Regions from separate parts of the Homo sapiens genome. Here region 2 is linked to region 1. The links come from fine-mapping of genetic effects on gene expression. A gene starts in region 1. The other region holds a variant in brackets. All regions are shown on one strand. Distances are between the middles of the regions. Region 1 holds the start of LINC02881 (long intergenic non-protein coding RNA 2881). Region 2 holds the start of TMEM72 (transmembrane protein 72).

Evidence for each region. PIP is the estimated chance that this variant, and not a neighbour inherited with it, causes the effect.
Region 2: its variant is fine-mapped to the expression of LINC02881 in prefrontal cortex (GTEx, PIP 0.97).

What each region holds. Positions count from the first base shown.
Region 1 is chr10:44,289,549-44,294,920 of GRCh38, forward strand. It overlaps LINC02881 (long intergenic non-protein coding RNA 2881), which reads left to right and starts at 3,202. Exons shown (of 3, transcript NR_164139.1): 1 at 3,202-3,385; 2 at 3,753-3,941; 3 at 4,365-5,101. LOC124902544 (a long non-coding RNA gene) reads right to left here. Exons shown (of 3, transcript XR_007062369.1): 3 at 4,366-5,372.
Region 2 is chr10:44,910,185-44,915,556 of GRCh38, forward strand. TMEM72 (transmembrane protein 72) reads left to right here and starts at 1,153. Exons shown (of 5, transcript NM_001123376.3): 1 at 1,153-1,398. The coding sequence starts at 1,329. All of the region lies in intron 2 of TMEM72-AS1 (TMEM72 antisense RNA 1), which reads right to left. The variant G/A (reference allele first, on the strand shown) is at 2,705.

The sequences.
Region 1 (5,372 bases):
CTTTTTTATCACTTTTGTTTTATTTATTTTATTTATCACTTTTAGAGAGACAATGTGATAATTGCCAAACCAGCACCTAATGTTCCTAGTGGGTGGGGAGCCCTTTCCTGCCCCACTCATGCCTGTCTAACTACCTGCAGCACTAAGAGTCAATGTTATAGCTAATATGTATAATTAAAACTACTTGCTATAGGAAAAACCTCTATTATAGAGCATATAAAGGAAGTAAGATGCAAAGAAAGTTGAAAAGAGAAAGTGATTTTTTTCTTTTACATGACTGAGGACTTTGTGGTCAAAACAATAAAGAAGAGAGAAAATCACATTTTTATAGAATCCCAATGCAAAAAGAGAAAGTATAAGACAAAACTGGAGGTTTAAGTAAGTTGTAGGTTTGTGAAAGATGAATCTTGCGAAAAGAATTTTGTGTGTGAGCAAGTTGGCTAAAATTATACGAGAATTATTTCAAGTTTTTCTAAAGATTGAGCATTAATATGAAAAGCACACTAATGCAAGGCCAGAGTCCTGGCTCCTATGTTTGAACAATAGGGTTTTCCCTATAATTTTAACAGAAAATTATAAAAGATTATAAGAGGTTTATGGAAAGCTTATCTTGCATGGTCAAAACTGATTCAGACTGGATGGATTTATTTATAAGTCTTTATTAAACTTAGCTTTAGCATTAATAATATACTGACACAAATGTAGAATATGCTTTCCTCTTTTGAACAAGATTTTAATGTAGTATTAATAAGGATAGTAAAAGGCTTTTGTTCAACTTTTGAGTAAACTGCAAAAAAAGATCTTTATTAGGTCTTTTGATTATTTAGATAACTGAGTCTTCTCTCTCAAAGAGTAAAGGTTGTTTGAAATTTTTGAATTATTGCTTTGGTTAAATGAATGACTATTATTTACAGTGAACTGTGATCCTAATTTGATCAAGTGTTTTAAACCTTTAATATTTGATATACTACCCAAAGTCAAATTTCAGTTTCTAAAATTAAATCTTTTCCAAAAGTAACCTCTAGAAATCTAAGAAAGATATATTTAGCTTATTTGGTATGTTAAAATCATATGGGAAGCATTGTCAAATCTCAAATAAATAATGGAGTTTAATTTTTTAGTCATATTTTTCTGAATATGTTATTATTTTGATATATCATGATATATGTTGTCAAGCATAATTATGATTTATCCTTGGTAAAAACGGGGAAACGGGAGAGAAAAATTGCATTTCAGAAGACAAGTACAGTATGCCTGTTATCAGATTCTAGTCTTGCCCATTGTTTTTGAGTTTTTATTATTTTCCTACAATTTGGACTAAATCCTGAATTCTTTCTTGGCTGCAAGTCTTCAAACTAATGCTTTTGAACTTTTCTCTCATTTTTCTCACTTGGAATCACTAGAATTTAAAACTGCTTTTCTTGAAGCCCTGCAAACTAAAGTTAGACAACTTGATATAAACTTCAGGAGGAGTCAGCACAGCAACTCACATGTACACAGCCTTTGTGCCTGCTGATGTATGGGCTACTCAGGAAGTTCACATGAACACGTAATTCAAACTATAATCCAGGAAAATCTGTAAGATTACCACTACAATCTGAAGATACTTCTGAGACTCTAGAAAAACTAGTTTATTATGGACTATTCCAGACATTAAGAAAAACCTTTGTTTTTCTTTGTTTCCATAGAAATGCCTCTTATTAAAGACCAGCTTGCCTGCATCAGCTGTAGAAGCCCAGCCCCTCTGTAGTGCCACCTCCTAGAATGGACACAGCTGTTTGACCAAATGCTTCTACTCTTAGGACTAAGAGACTGATTCAAGAAGATATGGGACAACATATTTATTTATTTTTCTTTTCTGCTTATCCCAATTTGTTTTTTCCCCTTCTTTGCCTTCTTTTCCTCTAACCCAAATCTCTCCATAATCACTGATTCAGCTGTTGATAATGTGAAATTCTAGGGAAGTTCCAAACAGGAGGATTGAAGGAGCGCAGGGAACTTGGCCCCAAAATATGGCTCCCTGGTATGAGTATTTTCAATTAAAGTCCCTCAAGATCAACAGAAGCTGGAAGAGTCCTCTCCCTTATCTACATGAAGACCCTGCAGACCCACCAAAGAGAACAATTACTTTTCCTTCTCCTCCCTCTTATCTCATTATCTATTGCAGAAAAGAAAACCAACACGTGACCACACCTGAACAGACGCTTTCAAAAAAATAATCCATTTCTCCAGCTTATTAAATTTTCAAAGAGAACCATTTACGAATAACTCTCTGTTTCTTGACCCATTCATTCTCCTTAATAATAATTTATTGCCCCTCAACAGAATCACCTACATTCCGCCTTCCACCCTCCTCTCTGAAAAAACGCTGTATAAGTATCTGGACCTCATGGGATATTGGGTAATCACCTTATTTTTCCCGTGTACACGTTAATAAATTTGTATGCATTTCTCTTATTAATCTGCATTGTACACTTAAAAAGTATTAAAAGAGTGAAATTTATGTTATGAATATTTTATCACAATAAAACAATATTTTAAAAAACTGACAAAAATTCTTTTTAATTTCTTTCAAGTGAGGAATTACCAACTACTTAACAGGGTGCTTAGAATGGGGGATTTTACCAGATAAGTGGCATGCTTTTTACAATTAACAATTGCTGTTATTTACTGAGTATCCACTTTCTCTGCCAGCTCCTGCGTTAAGCACTTTACATATACTAATTCAAATCCTTAAAAAAGAAAATAAAGAAGAGAAAAGGAAAGAAAAATAAGAACATGTAAGGCTATAAGGTGCCTCATCTTTGCCAAATTCTACAGACTGGCCAGGAGACTGCAGGCCACTGCAGCTTCCTAAGGCCACTCAGGACAAGGCCAGTCCGCAATTTGTTTCACTGTGAGACGGCTGCGCGGTCAGAGCCCAGACACGGTCATCAGACTCCCGGACTTGGATTCAGCTCCACATGGTGTCACCCTGGGTAAAGGATGTACATCTCTGCGTGCCTGGGTTTGTATGGATGGCAGCATGGATGCTCAGGCAACTGACCCGTCAGGACTGCAGCAAATGAACAGAAGCTGGGGGAGAGCGCGGGCTGGTGCTGTACGGAGCTCTGGCGCAGAAGGCGCTCACCAGGGGTGCCCAGAGCCGGGGTCTGTGCGCCGCGGGTTGGATCCGGGTCACAGGCTCTGGGTGGACAGAGTGAGAAGACAAAATGAGGATGTACTCCTCAGATGCTCACGAAAGGCCTCCTTCCCCTTCTTTGGGAACGACCCCCCCCCACCCCCTCCCCCCAACAGGCAGTCCCAGGCCGCGCCAGGACTCGGCCGCAGGCAACTCGGAGGAGCGGGAGCCCAGGGGCCTCAGGAGGGCCTCGGGAGTGGGGAGGTGAAGGGGGCGTCGGGAGGGCCGCGGGTGGGAGGCGGGATAGGGAGGCGGGGAGACTCGGAGCGGGGTTGGGGAGGCGAAGAATGGAGGTGGGGAGGTGGGGAGGGGGGCTTCGGGAGGGCCGCGGGTGGGAGGGGGATGGGGAAGCGAGAAGGGGGGGCGGGGAGGGGGGCCTCGGGAGGACCGCGGGTGGGAGGTGGGTGGGGAGGGGGGCCTGGGGAAGGATGGAGCCCGCTGAAGGCAGGCGATGACGCAGGCCCAGTGTACTTCTCCTGGGGGCTCCTTTCTAGGCCCACGGAAGCTCCGTGTTGGTTTCTTTGTACCCATATCACACTCACTGTATTTCTTCTTTCCTTTCCTCTCCCAGCAGCTGTAAGCGCCCTACAGTTTGCATGGGAAGGCAACAGGGACTTCCCTTTTGCACTGTCTGCGGGTACCGCTGTTCCAGCCCTGAGAGGACGAGGGGACGCTGCGCTGTGGGGAAAGTCCGGGTGGCAGGAGGTGGCGGGGCTCCTGGAGGAGGTGCTGGGATGCGCTGCTGTGGCTGCAGAGAAAGGTCCCGAGGACGCAACCCGTCCCTTCCCCCGAACTGCGAAGGAGCCCCGCGGGGAGGACGGGCAGGGTCTCCCGGAGGGAGGAACAGGGGAGCCTGGAGTCTCAGGGTTGCGGGGAGCAGAGGCGTTCTGGGTGGTGAACGTCCCCAGCCTGCCCTCCCTGCTCACTGCGAGGTCGCGCACCGGCTCTGCTCCAGGCCTTCCCTCAGCCCTGGCCTCCAGGCAGTTTCCATTTTTGCCAGGTGGATTCTGTACGGCTTCATTTATTCAGAATCTGGATCAACAAATGAACACTCAGAGAGGAAAAGGGTGTTTGGAGGGGTGGAGAGGTTTCCAAGCAGGTGCCCACCTGAGGGCCCCCTGAAAGGGGACTTAAAGCCGAGTTTCCAGCTGGGCCACCCTTTTTTTTTCTTTCTTTCTTTCAGAAATATAAACAAAGAGCTTGAATTATTTTGAAATAACTGTTGGTAGCTGGACTGTGTTCTCTTGACCGCAACATTGCTCTGGGACTGAATCGCGTGGGTCTCTGCTCTTCCTAAGTGTTACATAAGAATAGCGAACCCATGAGGTCAGCTTCTAAACCAGTTTCTTCCCATAACCTCCTGGACCAAGTCCCAAGCAAGGCCCAGAGGAGCTCAAGGACCCACTCTCCCCGGGACACTCCTCGCTCTCTAGTTGGAAGGAGGAAATGAATGTCCCCCAGTAATTGAAGGCTGCTCATGTTTGTGTAGAAAAGCCAAGCACAGGCCCATATTCTAGAGGGTTGCTTGCGGCAGGCGGAAGGCCATCGAAGGCAAAACGAAACAAATGAAAAGGCATCTTTTGAAGCTAATGGAACAGATCAGGTGGTCAAAAATGGATAAACAATGGCATTTGGAGCAAAACTTTCAGCTTCTTCGTTTTAGTTCGACAGCCCCAGGAGGGCATGGAAGCTTCTCGCCCTCCTCATATGTCTTGCCCCAGGCATCTCTGTGTCTCTCTCCTCTGTAACATCCTTTATAGTAAATGTAAGTAGGCCTTTCCCTGAGCTCTGTGAGCTGCTCTAGCGAATTATTCAAGTGTTAGGAGGCGTCCTGGGAACATTGATTCGTGGGAACGCCAGTGGGTCAGAAGCACAGGTAAGACCACCTTGCCATTGGCATTGGAAGTGGAGGGCAGGCTTGGGACATGAGGCTTGGGCTTGTGGGGTGTGAGGCCACCTCCAGGTAGAAGGTGTCGATGTTGGAATTGTCCGATGTAGAACTGCCTTCTTGCTTGTGGTGGGGAGAAAACCCACACATTTGGTCACAGAAGTCTTCTGTGTTGATTGTTGTTGAGTGAGAGAAAAAAAGTACTTTGGTTTGTTCTGATATTTTCAGAAAGGCTGTAATCAGTTCCTGGGCAATGCGTCATAATACCTCCGCCTCAGTACACTCCCCATCCTGAGGGGCGGC
Region 2 (5,372 bases), 620 kb after region 1:
TGGGCTAGCAACATGCCCTACAATATATTCTTACATGAGCTACTCCACACTTTATAACATAAACCTTGTGTTAGATGATTTTGCCCAACCATAAACTAAGTGTTCTGAGCACATTTAAGTAGGCCAGGCTAAGCTCTGATGTTCAGTAGGTTGGTTGGATTAAGTGCATTTTTAACTTAAAATATTTTCAATGTCTGATGGGTTTTTTGGGACATAACCCCATCATAAGTTGAGGAGCATGTGTATTGGGTTTGCTTGGAGTTTTTTTCCTTATTTGGTTGTTTTGTTTTCTATCTTATATGAGCAAAGGGGTAAAAGATTTCAGAAAAACACCTGAGAGATAAATCTTAATACCATTCAATCTAGCACATCCGTTAGTAAATTAAGAATGAGGGAAAGCCCACCACTGTCCAAGTGTAAAGGCTGGGCTCCTTGAAACAGCTACAGGGACACTCCAAGTACATCAAAAACACCAATTCAGCCAAAACTTCACATTTATTTTCTGCAAAAGTTACCAAGGCTCACAGATGCCTTTGGGTTTCCCCAAGGTCACCCGGTTAATTATTGACATAGCAACTCCCCTCGCAAAACAAAGAATCAAAATGATTTCCCACGTCCCATGTTGGGATGCATGTTAATGAGGAAGGAAGGCCTCTGCGTGGCGGGGCCTGAGCTAAGTATGTCTAGTCAGAGTCCAAATCCGGGACAGATTTGAAAAGCTTTCTAATCCACCTATACGCAGAAGAATAAAGCTTGGAACTCATTTCAAAAGTTGTTTCTACTGGTGATTTAAAGACACACTCCTCTCTCCCATATGCACATAAGCACAGACCTGCAAGAGCACTGTCCCCTCCAGAGCCAGACACTACAGGCCCCCAGCAAGTGTGAAATCCAGGTGTGACTTTCTAGGCATGGCTTGGTGAGGAAGGGCCTGGCCCACTCCTTGGCTCCCTCCTCCCAGCCAGAAACGGTTAATTGCCAGCTCCAGACTGCCTCCAGCCCAGCCCTAATCGCCGATCTCAGGCGGCTGGGCTGCGCTGGGGCTGAGCGGCTCCAGCCCAGGCTGGGGTTGTGTGAGCAGCAGGAGCATTCTTCCAAGGTAATGATTAAGCTGAGTGCCTGGCAAGGGCACGGGCTGAGAGCACAGAAGGTGAGCCCTATTCACACCTCGGCCAGGCTGCGGTGGCCAGGACTGGTTTGGGAAGGCAGGGCCCCGGTGTGCAGCCACAGCCAGCAGCCTCCTACCTACACAAGGGTGTTCGGGAGCATCTCAGGGCCGAAGACTTTGCTGCCTGCCCTGCCAGGACTTTGTCCTCACCCCTGGCACCATGCAGCTCCAGGTGTTCTGGACTGGGCTGGAATACACCTGCCGGCTCCTGGGCATCACCACTGCTGCAGGTAAGACCCTGCCTCCTGGCTGCTGATCCTTGCACACTGGCACCACAGATAGGGCTGCCTGAGGGGTGGGAGGTGGCCAGGAGACAGCAGGCACATCTGGCCACTTCTGTGCTTCAATTTTTTTCCCAAGACCCCTAGAAACACTGCTCTGTAGAGCAGCAGCAAGTGCAGTGGGGTGAGCCTAGGGCTGGGGACCAGAGGGCTGGGTGCTGGATCTTTGCTTGGCAAGTCACCCTCCCTGTGACCTTGGGAAGCCTCAAGATCCTCATCTGCAAAATGATTCCAGGGGCCACCCCACCTACGCAGAGAGTTGTCATGAGATGGAGGTGGAGACAGAAGGTGAAGATAGAAAGGGCTGGGCTTCGCTGTGTATCTACAAAAGGTCAACTGAGCTCATCCTGCTTTACTCAAACCATAGCCCTACCTCATGGAGAGAGAACTCCCAGTCATGAGCAGCTCTGCCCTGGAGGGACAGGCTGAGCCTGGCTGGACGTGGAGATCACAGGCTTCCCTCGGGCCCATGCTGGACCCTGTTAACAGAACACCCTGTAGGAACCCAGACCCCTGTCTGAGGTCTGACTGCAGGAATGCACTGTGGTCTTAGCAGCAGAGATGCTTCCCAGAGATGCTGGGCTCCTTCCTTCACCCAGCAGAATCACAGGGCTGCTCAACTGGACAGGAGGGCAGACTGTTAGAGCAGAGCCCAGAGCCACCATCCTGAGCCCTGCCTGCTCGCTTCCCCAGGGCAGGCCTGACCCTTAGCCCCATTCCCCCTACAGAGCCAGGATCTGTTTTGGGGAAATGAACAGGCAGAATTCTGAGCCCTTAACTCTGAGCCACATTGTCCCTTGGGGACAAAGAGAGACACACCCCCTATCAAAGCCCTTCCCCACCACTGGGCAAAAGCTTACCCACGGGTCTTACCAAATGGGAAAGTTCTCCTAGGTCAAAATCACATAGTGCTTGTTCCTGCCCCAGCCTAGTCACTTGCGTGATATATGACCTTGGGGAGCCCCTGACCCCTCTGAGGCTGCACTTTCTGATCTGTATGATGGGGACCTGCTGGCCAGGTGTTTGGACAGATTAAGGATGCAGGAACTGAGCATGGCTAAGTGGAACTGAGGATGAAAACCTCTCAGCAGAAGCCCCCATGACACACTCCAGAGCTCAATGGGAAGCTGGGTCATTTCAGGAGCACTGGGCTGGGTTCAGCCGTGAGCTGGCCAGTGGGCTCTTCCAGCATCTAGGCCATGAGTTAGATCATGAAGGGCTGCTGGATGGTTTAACCCCACCCCTCCTGCTACAG[G/A]ATGGGGCACCTGAGCTCAAATGCAGGTGGTGACCTTGCCCAAGGTCATGGTCAGAGGGACAGCCAGCCCGGAGCCCTGGTCCTTCAACTTTCACAAAGGCCAGGGCTCTGGCCAAAACCTTCCCTGTCTTCCAGAGTAGGCAGCAGGAAGAGGTTCAGAATTGCTCTGCTGAGGCTCTGAGTGGAGGCACTGAGGGAGGAGCCAGATCCAGCCACTTTCAGAACCACGTTGTCGTCTACACATAAGAGAATGATGGCCAAGACCCCCAACAAGCAAAAAAGCCATCCTGGGGAGAGGAAGGCCACCCTAAATAGGTTTCCATGTCTGTTGATCTGAGTCCACCCTGCTCCCTCTAGGCTTTGGTTTCCAAATCTGTAAAATGCCAAGAATCCCACAGTTCCCCCAGCCACACTCCACCCAGAGCTGAGGCCCACCTCCCGTCGAGAGGCTGTTCTAAGATGTATGTACCTATCCTTCTAATGGATTAGCTAGAGACAGTTTAACAGTCTGATTTATCTCAGTCACCGGAAGAGTCTGCAGCCCCTGACACTCCCATGTGCACGCACACACACACACACACACACACACAAACCCGTGCGCGCGCACATAGGGCTCGTCTTAACCACAGCCTTTATCTCCGCACAGGGACTGCTGTTAATGCTGAGAATGGGCCTCCCTCTTGGTTTTGATAGGAGATTCAGACTAAAAATAGCCATGAGCTCCCTTCTAATGGCCAGGCTTTCAAATGATCTTGCTCGGGCTTTCTAGAGTGCTGGGAGGGAGTGGGAGGCTAGAGAGAGGGGTTTGGTGTTCTTGGGCAAATCTCGAGTTTCTTCCAGCATCACTGAACTCCTGGCCTATTTCCAGTACATAGGATTTGCAAATTCCTTATTCTCCTAAGCCTCTCTTTTGTTGAAATCTTCTGTTGAGAAATCCAGGCTTCATTTACAAGGGCACTGCTGCTAGAGAGGAAATAAGACCGGAAATAGAGGGCCTCACTTTGCAGAAACCCTAGGGAGGTGGGGAGTGTGGATTTCTTAAAAGCTAGGAAGACATGTGACCCAAGGGCACTCAGAGTGTCACCTGCAGGGACCAGGCAGCTGCTAAGAGGCTACAGCCTCTCATTAGCAGCCTCTTCCCTGGACCCCCTGCAGACAGGATCAGGGCTGTCAAAAGCACTGACGGCACCTGGTGGGTGCCTCTGCCAGCATGTCAAGGCCCTATGACTGTGGATGAAGCCACAGCCTTTGGATGAAGCCTCCTTAGGATTCCTCGAAGTCCCGCAGACCATTCTTGCCCCACCTCAGTGTCCAGCCCCATATCATGAGGGGTTGTAGAGCACAGACGGATCATTGCCACCACCAAATTGGGATAAACAGGCCTCAGGTAGTTGCACCTGGGTGGAAGTGTTTCTAAAATTAGAAAATTCCCTCCCTCTGGAGCAGTCATGTGGTTTCCAGGACATAACAGACCACTCCCGCATTGTTTACACCGGGTTCATTTGCTTCACCTCCCTGGCTCAGGATGTGGGGTTGGGGGGCAGGCGCCCATGGGTCCATGTGCATGCATGCGCCCGTGTGATGTCTAAGTGCCTCAGTTGCTGAGACGCGGCATCCATTGCCGCCCATGGAAGCAGACACAGCTGGGAAATGGCACACAGGCTGTGAGCACTCCACATTCCCCTGTGCGGATGCCGGAGCTCCTGCCTGTCCATCCCTCAAAGCAGGTTCTCCCCGTGTCCACTAGAGACAGGGTAAAGATGTCCTGAGTGTGAGACTCAGGCCCCAGAGGAGGCTCAGCCCTGTGACAGGTTCTCAGCACAGACCAAATGGCAGGAAAGGGGTCCTGGGAAATGGATTTAACTGAGCCTGGAGCACAGCGGTCCAGGGCACTCCTCCCCTGTGAGATGAGAAAGGACCTGTCCCACAGCATTGGTCCCAGTTGCAGGCTAGGAAAGCAGGGTTGGCTTCCCTTTGAACTTCAGCCATCCTCTTACCCTTTAACCTCAGGGGAATCTTGAATAACTCCTTTGCCACTCCCCAGCCCCTGCTGAGGTGGCCAGGAAGAGCATGGGAAGAGCCCCCTTTGTGGGACAGAGGAGGCACCTCTCAGGCCGTCCAGGCTGGGCATGGAGGGAAGGGGAGACATGTCCCTGAGCCCCGCCTTGTAGTGAAAGCCCTCCCCTCAGGCTGTGTCCTCACACACAGATGTGCATGGGCTTCCCCATAAGAGGCTTGCTCAGAAAATGTCTCTGGGCACTTGAGCAAGGCCTCCCAATTTCCCTCAGAGCAAAGAGGCTCCAGCTTGAGGCCCCACTGCCCCATCTCCAGGGCTGAATTTCACTCTTCCAGCCTCTGCCCAGAGCAGAGGTTGCTGAGAATGAACATGATTATTTGAGTATTTACTCAAATAATACTCAAAGCCCAAGCTTTGCACTGTGTATTTTAAATGCAGTATCGCATTTCATCCTCCTGTCATTGGGAGCATCATCATGTTCATCCTCATACCCACTGTACAGGAAGGGAAACCGAGGCCTGATGGAGCGAAGCATCTTGCTCAGGGTCTCACACCAGGAAGCAAGAAGACAAAGTTCCACCTGATGATGGTCTGCTCCTGAGACTCCACTCCTAATCGTTATTTCCTCCACCTGAATCAGGATTAAAAAGC